2 separate regions of the Homo sapiens genome follow, and region 2 is reported to be linked to region 1. Evidence: microRNA targets listed by miRTarBase, many of them from high-throughput screens and not tested one by one. Region 1 holds a microRNA gene; the other region holds the end of a gene's coding sequence.
Evidence for each region. Region 1 holds the annotated microRNA hsa-miR-876-3p (UGGUGGUUUACAAAGUAAUUCA, at 4,768-4,789, shown strand). A microRNA usually pairs through its seed, bases 2 to 8, with sites in the 3' UTR of a target mRNA and lowers its output. Matches are read on the target gene's strand: a 7mer-m8 pairs with bases 2 to 8, a 7mer-A1 pairs with bases 2 to 7 and ends in A, and an 8mer does both.

Region 1 (8,532 bases):
ATGCAGACACACACACATGCTCACTCACTCACTCACTATTCTATGTAGTCTCTGAGTAAATGTAGAGGTCCACTTTATAAACTGGATCTCTAGATATTACTGCTTAGACAAATGATCTTTGACAGTGAACTAAACCCTTCAATGACTGAAAAATACTTCCTGGAGTATAAAATCAAATGTCATCAATGAGGACTTATTCACAGAAAGGCATATTCAGCTGAAGGCAAATAAGTCATAGTATACTTCTGAAGGCAGGAGACTTTATTAAGTGTAAGCAAAGTTAACGACACACACTAGGTTAACAACATTCTTCCAAGCCTCTAGGGATCACCTATAATGAGTAAGAAAGGAAAGATTTGTAATTGAGATATTATCTATTTTTGTATAAATGGATATTTTACATAAAATCCTGAAAACTTTGTCTTAAGTAAACTGGATGCTTTTACAAAATGTTTAAGTATTATTAATATGTTTTATTATTTTTGGGTAAAAGAATTGTTTCATTGTAGGGCAAATGTATATTTGATTCTGTGTAAAATTTATAATTCAAACTTTATGTTTTTACCTAATTTTCTTTTCTCTATATATTTCACAAACACTATAGGTAATGTTGCATACTGGGACGTTATGGGGCAAAGACAAAACATGAGCTTTTAGACAAATCTAGCTCTGTTATTTAAACATTTGTTTAACCTTGGACAGATTACACTTTTTTGTGTGCCTCAACTGCCACGTGTTGAAGGCAGGGATTATGTGTTGTCTGTTGTCAGAAATCAGAAATAAATGAAGTAATACACATGCTTTATGGGTGCTTGATAATGAAAGTTTTTCTTTTTAAAAAATAGTTAAAATTCCAATAACTTTGTGATTCTCTGTAATTTATGGCAAATGTTTACATTGGTGCAGTAGGGGTAAGAGTTTGTCTTCTTTTTTTTTTTTTCTTTACTTGAAAGACATAGAGCCTGCCACATATTTAGCTCAGCTATGGCTAGCACTTGCTTATTATTGTTAGCAATCACTTGCTTTTATACCCTGACTTGCATTGTTTATTTTCAATATTTCAGGGCAAAAGAGAGATTTTATGAGAAAAGGGAGAAAAAAATAACCAGTAGGAGGATTGTATTTACTGTATATGCATTTTTCATTTCCTGTTCTATTTTTATTTTGTATTATTTTACTTGCTCTACTATTTTCATTCTTTTTAGCTTTCATCACCAGGAAAGGATGCAGGCTTCCTTCTGAACTTGCCTTCCCACTCAGTTTACCAGCAGCATTTGTCATATTAGTGGTGTGATTTAGCCCTTAACTGCAGATTCCTCTGTCAGTTCTGCAGCTGTTTTACTTCCTGTCACCAGCAGTAGTTATTTTAAATAGAGCTGATATTATGGCCTGTATTTTGATATTATCTCTACCTTATTTGTTTTATTTCAGTTTTCTTGCTTGTGTGGGTTGAAAAATGTAAGATACAAGATTCTAAGAAATAAGGATGAATCTAGAAAATAAACTATAGTACAGAATAAATTTCTGTTTATACTTTTGAATCAGAACTAAGTTACTCACTTTAAGACCCCACCAACGACGTCTGTCCTCTAATAAACCTGATGCCTAGTTGGAGCCCAATTAAAAAGAATTCTCCATTAGCTGGAATTTACCCCCCGGTGATAGAAGAGTAAGAGAATAAAGTTAATTATATGAATTCATGCTCACATTAGTGATTTTCACACTAACAGCACTCAGAATTTTTTGGCAAAAGCAAAAATATCAATCTACTTCATATCCTGTAACTGCCTGCAATGTACCATATTGTGTAGCACTTAAGTCTAATTCACACCACCCTTCTTCTCTGCCCTGGGTGCCCTGGGTGTTGGCCTTCCTCCTCTCTGCAGCCTTAGAACTTGGAAAATATTCCTTTCATAGCATTGATTATAGGGTTTATGCTATAGTTCCTAATTGCAGATTCAGAATCACTTTGTATGCCCCGTGGTACTCTGAATTCCTTTGGGGTTAGGGACCTTATTTTTCAAATCACAAGCATAGATGGAATAACTGATGCACGGTTATTAACAGAGATGTTGACCACAAGTAGAAAATGACACAGGGGTTCTGGATAACCTTAAAAAAATACAATAAAGCATTCAATATGGTAATTCATTATAAAATAACTGCCTATTTTTGAAGTTAAATAGTGCAAGAGTTTGAAAAAATGGTGTTTTCTAATAATCAGTGCACCGGAAAATTAGTTCAACCAGAACATTTCATTCTCAGTGCATATCATTTATCTACTTATATAAAATAGAGAGCATATTTGACAGAAAATGTGGGAAAATTTTCTAAATTAGCTGAATGCTGTCTAAAGAGGGACTTGCATGAAGTTTTCTTGCATTCAGATTCACAAACCAAGCAAAGCCAAGTACCCGACTAACATAGAGTGCTACATATGGAGAGCATATTTGTCTTGTTTAGTGAAAGAATAGCAACAAGAGGTATAAAATATTGTAAAAACACACCCTGGATTATTTCACTATTATTATTGGATCAACTTAATTTTACATTTGGATTGGAATGGTTATTCAAAGAGCCACTTAAGATCTCTTTAAGTTGAGATGATTGTTTTTTGTTTCTTTGTTTTGTTTTGTTTTTTGAGACAGAGCCTCTCCCTGTCACCCAGGCTGGAGCGCAGTGGCACGATCTTGGCTCACTGCAACCTCTGCCTCCCGGGTTAAAGACATTCTCCTGTCTCATCCTCCCGAGTAGCTGGGACTACAGGCGCAAGCCACTATGCCCGGCCAATTTCTTGTATTTTTCTAGTAGAGACGGTGTTTCTCCATGTTAGCCAGGATGGTCTCGATCTCCTGACCTCATGATCCTCCCGCCTCGGCCTCTCAAAGTGCTGGGATTACAGACGTGAACCACCACACCCGGCCAGGGTGATTTGTTTTTAAACCCATGTCAAACTCTAAATGTATTCCACCCAACTAGTATGCCTGAATTTCACTGGGGAAACTGGCCTGATTCTTCAAGAGGTTTTGCCTGGGCCAGTTTGGGATTGAGTGTGACACTTGATGAAGAGCTGGAGGACCTTTGTATAACTGCTCCTTTACTCTGCCCATATTTCAGACAGGTTGCCTCATTATTCTGGAGTTCTCTTACTTCAAATTTTTCTGTCCCTGCTGCCTCTGATCTGGTGATGCTCACTTGTGTTCACCTACTCTAACTGTAGCAGCAGTTTTCCTTTTCAGCTATAGTATACCAAAAAATAAAATAAAAATCACGTTATTTCTTTGGATAGGCCGTGGTATATGTGTTCTCTTCTGCTTAGAACACTTACCCCACCCTTCTCATTGCTAATTCCTGCTACTCTTTCAGTTCTCTTATATATGGTATTCCCTTAGAGAAGACATCTGTAATCAACGCTCTTAGCACTGAATTAAGTGGCCTCTCCATGTCTCCATTAGCCCTATATGGAAACTTTTCATAACACCTATTACTGCTTTTTTCAAATTCTTGTTTTCTCCTTTGTATTTCTTGAAACCTGGAGTTTTTATATCCCCAGCATCTAACCAAGACTATGCCTGGCACATGATAAGCGCAAAACAAATATTTTTTTTTCATACATACATATTTTCTACAAATTTTTTATTTAAATATTTTTAATTATTCAGATACTTAGCAAGTTTGGCTTGGTTGTTATATGTGTGGTTGGTGGAGGTGAGTAGGGTATTCCTGAGCAGTGACCTACACTGACAGTGGTGAACTGCCTAGGACTCTTATGTTCATGAGCTTCTATAAAGCAAACTTTTAATTAATGTTGACATTTGATGGTTACTTTGAAAAATGTTGAAATTTTCAAAAGCATGAATTACTTGATTGATATTATGCTTACTAGGCTGGGAAGATTTATAGATTCTTTTCATTAATTATAAATGAAACCTTTCTTTTTGCTCTTTAGATAAAAGTTAAAAGGTGGGATTCTGGTTATTTTGCAAAGGAGAGTAACTTTATTGTTTGTTTTTCATTTTTTATTGGTGTGGTTTTCTTTCAGAGTTGAACCTAATATGTATAATATAGAATTTAGTTTTATAAACATTCTTGGACTTCAGCAGTCATATGAAAAAATACTTACTTGGACAAATATCAGAGGAAAAAACACTCAGGTTAAACTCATTTAATGATTGCCTTTGAACTTTTATTTTAAGTTCAGGGGTACAAGGGCAGATTTGTAACATTGGTAAGCTTGTGTCATAGGATATGAGATTATATGAGTATAAAGTGGGAAGCTAAGTAACTGAGGATATCTTTAGAACAAATTATCCCAGCAACACTTATATACTGTGATATGGATGTGAGAATTACATATAGTTTTATTATTTATTCTACTCCCTACTCCTGACATCTATATTAATAACCATGCCCTTTTATTTTGATGAGCAGAACCCTGTTTTTTCATCCTGCATAATGTCATGCTAGTTATTGTATTAGGAATTCTTTTAAATGAAATTTACTGGTATATAATATAGAAAGCATGCATTTATTTTTAAGTTTTATTTACTTAAAATAAATGTTCAGTGTTTCTTGTGTGTTTCAGCTAAAAGAGGGTGGTGCAAAACTGAGCATATTCTTCAATTGATTGTGAACTAGATGGAAATACTTCCTCAACTTTTGGTGGCCAAAGGGTACTGTTTTTGTTGGTTCATAGGTACCAGGCTTTACACAAACTGTGAAGTGCTGTGGATTTCTTTGTGAATCACCATATCTAAGCTAATGTGGTGGTGGTTTACAAAGTAATTCATAGTGCTTCACAGGTGCTTCTGCAGTTGATCTACACCATGAAGCCTAAGATTCCTTTACTGAGCCATTGAGAACAAGCCACTTTGTATTACAAGACACACAAAGTCAAGAGATCCCTGGTAAATATACTCTAGAATCCTTCTATTTGGTGCTTAGTGTTAACAGTGATCAAACCTGTGTCAAACACACCAGAAATTATGGTTACTTTACCTAAATATACATGTTTTACATAGTTGCTGTCTCTGTCTCTACTGTTCTTTTTTTGAAAAGTAATTTGTAATATTTCTTGGTTAAAAAAACATGATACATCAGAAACATTAATTGAATCAGCCCCTTAAATCCTAAGCATACCATTTTGAAGTTTAAATATCATATTTTATTTGGATTATTATGCCCAATTAATATATTAATTAAATAGTTTGGTAAATGATCAGGGGCTTGAAGACATCATTGTTATGCAGTACTTTTGTAAAAAGCAACATTTTATTTTAACAAGAAAAACATTGGTGTGGGCAAAAAAAATCACCTTAACATACCAAATTGTACATTTTGATGGCATATATTAAAATTAGGTATTCACTGGGCATTCATTTTCATTTACTCTTCTGGAAACAGTATCTATAGTCCTATTCTATGACAGAAAAGATTGTGTAACCTTTACAAGGTCACAAAAGCCTAATTGTTGACTAGTAATTGCTTATTAAAATAAATGGAACTTTGTGGTCATTTCTGTCATCAGGATTACCAAGAATGGATTATCCCTGACCATAAATCAAACAATTGATGATTAACTATTTTAATAACTGATTAAGCTTTCAAATAGTCATTTTGGTTTTACCGTTTTTTATTTATTTCCAAGGCTAGAGCGTAGGTCTTATTTAAGTTCAATGGTATGACTATAAGACTGTCAGAACTATGAAAACTTCTGACCTTTAATTTCTTAAGTGACACATCTGGACACCTAAGTGACAGTGGTACAGGCTTCTGAAATTACTTTTGCATCATCATTGAATATATCTATTGTATTCATTATGACTTTATTTTGTCCTGTTATGTTTCATTCCTTAGAAGTGGATTATGCATATGCTCTATAAGGTTGGGTGACTTTAAATAAATTAGCATACTAATTTTTAAGCCCTTCTGTTAGATAAAAGAAAATCAGTATATTATTTTTCAACATATAAATGACCAAAAGAATGAATCAATATGTATACTTTTAACCTTAAAATATATGTGTATAAATATGATTGGAAATGCTTTACCTAAGAAATATCTTGCTACTCTAATTTAATTTGAACTATGATACAAACATGTTATTCTTATTTCCTAGCCTTTAATTCTTCAGTATTTATTATTACCATTCCTTGTCTGATACATATGTAACCTTATTTTTCATAGGACTGTATGTTCATAAGCAAAATCCACAGAGCTCTGGGATTTCCTGTGCTTTTGTTGGGTGCTACTTTGCTGATGTGTGAGGACAGGTGGGAAAAGAGTCTGAGAAGACAGGTTTCTGAAATTAATTTGTCCTAGAGCTCTTTGATTTTTCTGTTTTATGAAAGGGGGCACCTGTAAAATTTCCTTTGAGCCGAAGCTTATGTTTTTAATGATAATATGTAGAACTGCTGATATATGAATTTAGAAGGAAGTCACAATATTTTTTCTTAAGATAATTTTTAGTTTACGGGAGATATAATGGGATGTGCTAATGGACTAATAAGCATATCTCATAATCATGTACCTATATCCTTGTATCCTAATTTTAATCCCAACTTCTTTATATTTATTTCACTACCGCTTTTTTTATTTTTAAGATAAATACAGGTTTACAAACAATGAATTAATTTTTAGTGTAGGTTTTGTGTTTTTTGGTAAGAGACAAAAAACATATGTTGCCCTGGCTGGGGTGCAGTGGTGCAATCATAGCTCACTTCAGCCTTGATTTCCTGGGTTCAAGCAATCATCCCACTTCAGTCTCCTGAGGAGCTGGGACTACAGTGCCTGCCACCATGCCCAGCTAATTTATTTTATTTTGTTTTATTTTATTTTATTTTATTTTTGTAGCAACACAATCTCACTAGATACTCATGCTTGAGTGCAGTTATGAGTAGAACATGTGTTCAAAGTGAACCTGAGGTCTCCTGTTATGGACAAGGTAATATCAAGCTTCCCTAATTTCTGTGAGAACTATATGAGAATAGATATGTTTAAATGAATGTTATCTGTGAGAATTTTCTAGAGAACAGAACCAACAAGATTTTTGTGTGTATATATATATTAAATATGTATATATATTAATAATATATATTATATATAGTATATTATATAAAATATATAATATATAAAATATATAATATATAAATATTATATATTTTATATAATATTGTATAAAAAATATATATTATATATTTATATAATATTATATAAAAAATATATAATATATAAAATATATTAATATAAATATATTTTATATATTTATATAATATAAATTATATAAAAATTTATATAATTTATATTATATAAATATATTTTATATATTTATATAATTTATATTATATATTTATATATTAATAATACATATTATACATTTATATATTAATAATATGTATTATATAATATATTATATTATATATTAATAAATATAATATATTATAGATTTATATATTAATGATATATAATATATTATATATATTATTTTTTACCTTTTTTTATTTATAAGGCTAGAGCTTAAGTCTTATTTAACTTCAATGCTATGACCACAAGACTGTCAGAACTCTGAAAACTTCTGACCTTTAGTTTCTTAAGTGACACATTTGTACAACTAAGTGACAGTGATACAGACTTCGGAAATTGCTTTTGCATCATCATTGACTATATCTATTGTATTCATTTTGACTGCATTTTGTCCTGTTATGTTTCATTCTTTAGAAGTGGATTATGCATATATATATATATATATGAAATATATATATGACTATACATGACAGATTATATATATGCATCTTTATATATAGAGAGAGAAATAAAGACTATCTATCTATCTATCCATCTATCTATCTTTCTTCTATCTATAGAGAGAGGGATTTATCATAAGTAATTGGCTCACATAATTGTGGAAGCATGGCAAGTCCAAAATCCGATGAGATGGGGCAGCTGTCTGGAGGCTCAGGGCAGATTTGCAGTTCAAGTCCAAGTGCAATCTAATCTTCTGGCAAAATTATTTCAAGCATGGGGAAGGTCAGTCTTTGTCTATTAAGGATTTCAACTTATAGGTGAGGCCTACCCACATTATAGAGGGAAATCTGTTTTATTTCAAAGGGTACCAATTTTGATGTTATTCTCTTCCAAAAATCACCTTCACAAAAATATCTAGCATAATGTCTGACCAAATATCTGGGCACTATGGTGCAGTCACGTTGACAAATAAAATTAATCTTCACAGTAAAAATGGTATTTTTCCAATGAAATAAATTTTTGATTTTCAAACAATAAGTTGGTGTTCTTTGTAAGATTTTCTTAATTATTTTCCACATATTTCTATGGGAATGTGAAATTTAAAATATTTATGTTTTATTTAATTTATTGGAAATTCAATTAGTTTATGAATATTTCTTCAGGGAATACTTCTACTAAAACATTATTGACTTAGAAGAACTGTAGAAATAATTGTAACCTAGTCATGTCTTCAATATTTGAGTTTCATTTTTGTGGAGTTTAAATATTTTTAAATAAATGCATCCTTTT
Region 2 (7,633 bases), not on the chromosome of region 1:
CAAACTTCACACCGGTGAGAAACCCTATGAATGTAAGGAGTGTGGGAAGGCCTTTACAGTGCTCCAAGAACTTACTCAACATCAGAGACTTCATACGGGTGAAAAACCCTATGAATGTAAGGAATGTGGAAAGGCCTTTAGAGTACATCAGCAACTGGCTCGACATCAGAGAATTCACACTGGTGAGAAACCCTATGAATGTAAGGACTGTGGAAAGACCTTTAGACAGTGTACACACCTTACACGCCATCAGAGACTTCATACTGCTGAAAAGCTCTATGAATGTAAGGAATGTGGGAAAGCCTTCGTATGTGGTCCAGACCTTAGAGTACATCAGAAAATTCATTTTGGTGAGAAACCCTATGAATGTAAGGAGTGTGGAAAGGCTTTTAGAATATGCCAACAACTTACTGTTCATCAGAGTATTCATACTGGTGAGAAACCCTACGAATGTAAGGAATGTGGGAAGACTTTTAGATTAAGACAACAACTAGTTCGCCATCAGAGAATACATACTCGTGAGAAACCCTATGAATGTATGGAATGTTGGAAGACCTTTAGTAGTTACTCACAGCTTATTTCACACCAGAGCATTCATATTGGTGAGAGACCCTATGAATGTGAAGAGTGTGGAAAGGCCTTTAGACTGCTCTCACAACTTACTCAGCATCAAAGTATTCACACTGGTGAGAAACCTTATGAATGTAAGGAATGTAGAAAACCTTTTAGACTGCTCTCACAACTTACCCAACATCAGAGTATTCACACTGGTGAGAAACCTTATGAATGTAAGGAATGTGGTAAGGCTTTTAGACTTTATTCATTTCTTACTCAACACCAGAGAATTCATACTGGTGAGAAGCCCTACAAGTGTAAGGAGTGTAAGAAGGCCTTTAGACAGCATTCACACCTTACTCAGCATCAGAAGATTCATAATGGAATTTAATAGAAGAAAGCCTTCAAATGTATATGATGTTACAGAACATCAGAAAATTCATTTTTGAGAAAATGTGTTTCATGCTCAATTCCAAGCATAATAAATTTTATATTAGAGAAAGAATATGTTGATTTAAAAGCCTTCCAACACCATTTAAACATGGTTTATCTTCAGCAAATTCCTATGAGAGAATAATGTAATGAATGTAGGAAAATCTTTAGCCTTATCTGTCATTATCTCCCTTTCTCCACTTGATTACCAGTTTGATTTATTGGACAAGATACTAAGCTTCTGTGCCTCATTTTGCTGACTTGTAAAATGGTAATAATAGTACTTATATGTATTAGTTATTTATTGCTGCGTAATAAATTACCACAGACTTAGTAGCATAAAATAACATATAATTATATCTTATAATTTGGATCAGGAGTATAGGCATGACTTAGTTGGGTCCTCTGCTTCAGGGTCTCTTGCAAGGCTACAGATTTCAGCCAGGGCTGAGGTCTCATCTGAAGGCTCAACTGGGGAAGGATCCACATCCAGACTAACATAGTTGTTACCCAATGTATTTCCGTGAGGCCTGTTGCATTGAGATTCTCAGTTTCTAGCTGGCTGTTGGCTGAACGCTGACTGCAGCTCCTGGCCACAATAGCCTCATCAACATGGCTGCTTGCTTCATCAAGGCATGCAAGCCAAAAGGGAGGACAGTCTGCTAGCAAGATGGAAGTTACCATCTTGTGTAATCTAATCATGGAAGTAACATTCCCTCACCTTCTACTGGTAGAAGTAAGTTACTAGGATAGTCCACACTCAAGAGAACGGGATGATACAAGAGTGTGAATAAGTCCTGGAGACAGGACCACTGGGGGGCCTGTTTAGAGTCAGCCTGCCACACTGTGGAATAGGATTGTTGCAAGGAGTAAGTAGTTAATACTTGGAGGAATCACAGTCATATAGCATGTATTCTGTAAATATTATCTGTAATTGTTATTATTGTCATTAGTATTAGTGAATTCACGTAAAAGGAAGATCTGTAGACATAATAAATGTAGAAATGCCTCCTGTCACCTCTCAGAAATTATTAAACATAATTTATTCTAGGTAAAATTTAGATTGTAGTGAATGTAGGAAGTTCTTCAGCACTTGAGCTGCATTAGAAATTTCATGCCAAAAATGAATTTCATGAATGTGAGGTCACTAGTAATACAGCTGTTGAAGAATTAGAGGGAAATAGGAAATGATTTTCCCATAATTCCAGAAAGCAAAAGGCTTACAATCCCTGTTGTCTGACCACAGTTTAAAATTAATTAGAAACTATCAAAAATGTGGCTTAAAAGAAATTAACCACCTAGGAATTTAATATTGTTGTGTATATTTATGTGTGTGTATAAAACTCCTGTGGGAAAGAAACAAAACATCATTCTATAAGTCAGTATACTTTTGGATGCTCAAAATGCCATATCTTCAACCAGTAGGAGTTGTTTCAAGTTGAGTTTTTGATGTGATCCCACCAATAATTTGATAGTTTACTTGATTGTGGCTGCATAATTTGGTAACCTATGAAAGATGCTAGAGCACCAATGTATAATTTTTTTGAGACAGGGTGTCACTTTGTCCCCCAGGCTGGAGTGCAGTGGTACAAGCACAGTTCACTGTACCCTGTTCCTCCTGGGCTCAAGTGATTCTTCCACCTAAATTTTTTTTTTTTTTTTAGAGAAAGGGTCTCACTATGTTGCCCAGGCTGGTCTTGAACTTCTGGGCTCAAGTGATCCTCCCTCCTTGGCCTCCAAAGGTGCTGGGGTTACAGGTATGAGCCACCACACCCAGCCCAACTCATTATTCTTGAAATCAATAAATCAGAGGAAAAATTGTCATTTAGTTTCCTTTTCCCATGTGAACCAAATTTCAGGGTCACCAGAAGTTCATCAAATTCAAATGAATTTGGCCTGGCACAGGGGTCACACCTGTAATCCCAGCACTTTGGGAGGACAAGGTGGGTGGATCACTTGAGGCCAGGAGTTTGAGACCAACCTGGTTAACATGGTGAAACCCTGTCTGTACTAAAAATACAAAATTTAGCCAGGCATGGTGGCACACACCTGTAGTCCCAGGCTGAGGTGGGAGGATCACTTGAACCCAAGAGGCAGAGTTTGCAGTGAGCTGAGATCGTGCCACTGCACTCCAGCCTGGGTGACAGAGTGAGACCCTGTCTCAAAAAAAAAATTTGTTTTTTGAATGGGTTTTTCTTTTTTGAAGAAGTCTAATAAATCTAGAAGGAATTAGAGGATTAGAAAAATCACCATTTTCTAGACCTTAATGGAATAATGGGTCCAGAAAACATGATCTTCAATGGGTACTACAACTAATAGGTGAAATATTTTATAGCGAGATTTTTATGGTGGATCTATCAAACTGGCCACCTCTGAACCCTTTGATCTGTTTTAACCTTAATAAAAATGGGTCTATCAGACAACACACTTCCTGACGTAATGCAATAGGAAGTCCACACCACCATCTACAAAGCCTTATTGCTGGAATAATGAACTGAAAGCAGACAGGGACTAGATGAACAGTATATGGTCATCCCTTGGTATCCATGGGGAATTGGTTCCAGGATCCTCCACTGATGGTAAAATCTGAGGATGCTCAAGTCCCTTGTATAAAATGGCATAGTATGTATTTGCATATTACCTACTCACATCTTCCTGTATACTTTAAATTATCTTTAGATCACTTATACCTATCACAATGTAAATACTATGTAAATAGTTGTTATACTGTATTTTTCAATTTGCATTATTTTTATTGTATTTTATTTTTATTGTTTTTTTTTGAGTATTTTCTATTTGAGATTGGTTGAATCTGCACATATGGAGGGCTGGCTATAAAGGGCACCACAAGGAAGAAGCCAAACAGATCCAGAATGTGTGAAATTCTACAGAGCAAATTACCTGATTTCTTCAACTAACAGGTAGCATGAAAATACAAGGGGAAGGGCAACCATTAACAGATTAAAAGAGACTTAAAGAGACATATCAACTAAATTCAGTATGTTGGCATTACTTGGACCTGGTTTGAACAAAACATAAAAAGCCATTTTGGAGACAGTGAGGGAAGTGTGGACATGGACTAAATATTAAATGATATTTACATATATTAATTTGGTTAGGGATTATGTCAGTGTGATTATAAAAAATAAAAGATCGTATGATATGAGATACATACTATGAAATGAAGATAGACACATTTGGATTAAAATATTCTAGCAAAAGAAATAATTGGCAAAGAGAGCTGGAAACTAAATTGGCAACATGTTGATAATTTAAGTGGAGTGTTTTGTTCATGGAGACTTATTGTTCTAATATTTCTACTTTTGTATGTGTTTGAAATTTCAATAATAAAATGTTTAAAATCAAAACCAAAATTATAGACTATGTAGAAATGAATGACAGTGAGATGCCTGCACATCTAACCTTGTCAGATATAATCAAAGTTCTGTTCAGTGACAAATTAATGCCCTGTAATGTGGTAAGGAAATCTTATTTGTGGATACAGTCTTCATCTTCTTCACTTACCCACAGCAGCAACACCAGGCCTGTCACACAGATGAATGTGTTGAGGGAATGAATAAGTATTTCCGTCAAGAAAAAGGAAACAACAAAATAAAACCAACCCAAGTAAAGAACAGCCAAGTGGCCAGGTGCGGTGGCTCATGCCTGTAATCCCAGCACTTTGGGAGGCCATGGCAGGTGGATCACCTGAGGTCGGGATTTTGAGACCAGCCTGACCAACACTGAGAAACCCCATCTCTATTAAAGATACAAAATTAGCCAGGCATGGTGGTGCATGCCTGTAATCCCAGCTACTTGGGAGGCTAAGGCAGGAGAATCACTTGAATCCAGGAGGCGGAGTTTGTGGTGAGTTGAGATCGCGCCACTGCACTCCAGCCTGGGTAACAGAGCAAGAGTCTGTCAAAAAAAAAAAAAAAAAAAAAGGAACAGCCAAGTAACAGTAGAAAGTAGAAATTAAGAGAATGGAGAATATTAGACTTGATTCAATGTTAATAGTGATTAGATTTTGGCAGTTATAATCAAGGAAGAGAAAATGAAAGATAATACATTTAGAGTATTAATGATGATAAAAGAGACACAACTCTAGATTATATCAAGCAGATTTTTAAAATTATAAGGCAAAACTAGGCCGGGCACAGTGGCTCACACCTGTAACCCCAGCACTTTGGGAGGCCGAGGTGGGTGGATCACTTGAAGTCAGGAGTTCGAGACCAGCCTGACCAACATAGCAAAACCCCATCTCTACTAAAAATACAAAAATTAGCCTGTCATGGTGGCGGGCACCTGTAATCTAAGCTACTGGGGAGCCTGAGGCAGGAGAATTGCTTGAACCCAGGAGGCAGAGGTTGCGGTGAACCAAGATCACGCCACTGCACTCCAGCCTGGGTGACAGAGTGAGAACCTGTCTCAAAAATAATAAACATAATATGGTAAAACTATACATGCACACATGCACAAACGTGTATATTCATTCCAGTACAAGTAAAAATGTAGGATTGCATTTTTCCCCCAAAAGGAATATGTTTTACAATTAACTCACCGTATAACCCAAATAGATTAACAAAAAATGTGTGTGTGTGTGTGTGTGTGTGAACTCCCTGTTTAAAAAATCTGATACTTATAAAAACTTTAAGGAATAGATAATCCTAAAGATTTTACCAATTAATTCTGCAAGGTAAAATAATCCTAATAAAAATTAGATGAAGATAGTTTCTGAAAGCAAATTCTAGACCACCTTCATTATGAAGATTCTATTTTTCACAATTCTAAATAAAGTTTATTTAGAATTTATTACAAAATCTATCTTTGCTAATAGGTCAGTGTTTCTTTTCCCAAGCACCAAATACCTCCAGAAAGCCTGTGTTTGACCCCTAAATTCAACATTCTCCAGAAGTTTGCTTCAAGGAATATTAATTCTCGATGGTATTTGAAAAAAAGATTTCTTGGGAAAATAGGCAAATGAAGCAAAACATAAAACATCTACTTTTGGCCAGGCACGGTGGCTCACGCCTGTAATCCCAACATTTTGGGAGGCCAAGGCGAGCAGATCACTTGAGGTCAGGAGTTTGAGACCAGCCTGGCCAACATGGTGAAACCCTGTCTCTACTAAAAATACAAAATTAGCTGGGCGTGGTGGCTTGCACCTGTAATCCCAGCTACTTGGGAGGCTGAGGCAGGAGAATTGCTTGAACCCAGGAAATGGAGATTGCAGTGAGCTGAGATTTTGCCATTGCACTCCAACCTGGGCAACAAGAGTGAAACTCAGTCTCAAATAAAATAAAATAAAAATCTACTTTTGAGGAATTCAAAGTATACATGATCAGTTTGCCAAAGATTTAGTAAAGACATTTTTATTTAACTGAGTGTATCTCAAATTTATTGTGGAATTCTCAGTCCGAATATCTGGAATAGGAACAGCTTTGTTAGATGCTACCATAACCACAATGAATGTCTTCAAGGGTGTAATTTTAGATATGGTGAGTGGTTGTGTTGGGGGCGGCATAAGTCAGGGCAATTTTTTGCAGCTCATATCATGCTCTGAAAGTAGCTACCTGCTTTAATGGATGGTTAGTGCTTTTCTATAGAATGGAAAAGATTCCAGCCCGATCCTTGATATGTTTGTGTTAAACATGCTTATATATTATATTAAACAATGATTAAGGACATAAATGAGTTTCTGTGGTAATAAAGATGCTATATTGAATATCATTTTGTGTATTTTTTAATTTCCTTAAAGAGTCAAGAATCTAAGGTATTACCTAGAAATGAAATTGTTCGTTATAGGCTGTATACACTTTCAGCTTCACTGCTTATTGCCAAATTGTGGCTCCACCATTGTTCCAGTTTTGAATCCCTTTGATCATTGAATATCAGTGTTCATATTTCCCTACCTCTGCTATAAGTTTCAATATTTATTACACTGGGCCAGGCACGGTGGCTCACACCTATAATCCCAGCACTTTGGAAGGCCAAGGCAGGAGGATTGCTTGAGCCCAGAAGTACGAGACCAGGCTGGGCAACATGGCAAAACTCCATTTCTACAGAAAATACAAAAATTGGTTGGGTGCGGTGGCATGTGCCTGTGGTCTCAGCTACTTGGGAGGCGGAGGTGGACGGATCACTTGAGTCTGGGAAGTCAAGGCTGCAGTAAGCTGTGATCATGCCACTGCACTCCAGCCTGAGTGTTGGAGTGAGACCCGGTTTCAAAAAAAAAAAAAATTATTACCTTGATTACAAGTGAGTCAAGCATCTGTTCATATGCGTTTATTGGCCAATCGTGTTTACTGTGCTTTTTAATGATGCCTTTGCTGTATTTTTTTTTGCATTCTCATTTATTGATTTTTCAGGATTCTTAAAATAGTTTAGTATCGGTCGGGTGCGGTGGCTCACGCCTGTAATCCCAGCACTTTGAGAGGCCAAGGCAGGTGGATCACCTGAGGTCAGGAGTTCAAGACCAGCCTGGCCAACATGGTGAAACCCCATCTCTACTAAAAATACAAAAATTAGCTGGGCGTGGTGGTGCTCACCTGTAATCCCAGCTACTCGGGAGGCTGAGGCAGGAGAATCTCTTGAACCCAGGAGGCAGAGGTTGCAGTGAGCCGAGATCGCGCCACTGCACTCCAGC

Region 2: the mRNA of ZFP14 is a reported target of hsa-miR-876-3p. Seed matches in the 3' UTR shown: 7mer-m8 at 2,280-2,286 and 7mer-A1 at 3,445-3,451.

The regions. Positions count from the first base shown.
Region 1 is chr9:28,859,893-28,868,424 of GRCh38, reverse strand. It overlaps MIR876 (microRNA 876), which reads left to right and starts at 4,719; the gene lies at 4,719-4,799. All of the region lies in intron 2 of LINGO2 (leucine rich repeat and Ig domain containing 2), which reads left to right.
Region 2 is chr19:36,333,537-36,341,169 of GRCh38, reverse strand. It overlaps ZFP14 (ZFP14 zinc finger protein), which reads left to right. Exons shown (of 5, transcript NM_020917.3): 5 at 1-6,717. The coding sequence ends at 946. Among named protein-coding and RNA genes, the nearest start is that of LINC00665, 5.6 kb to the right of the region's middle.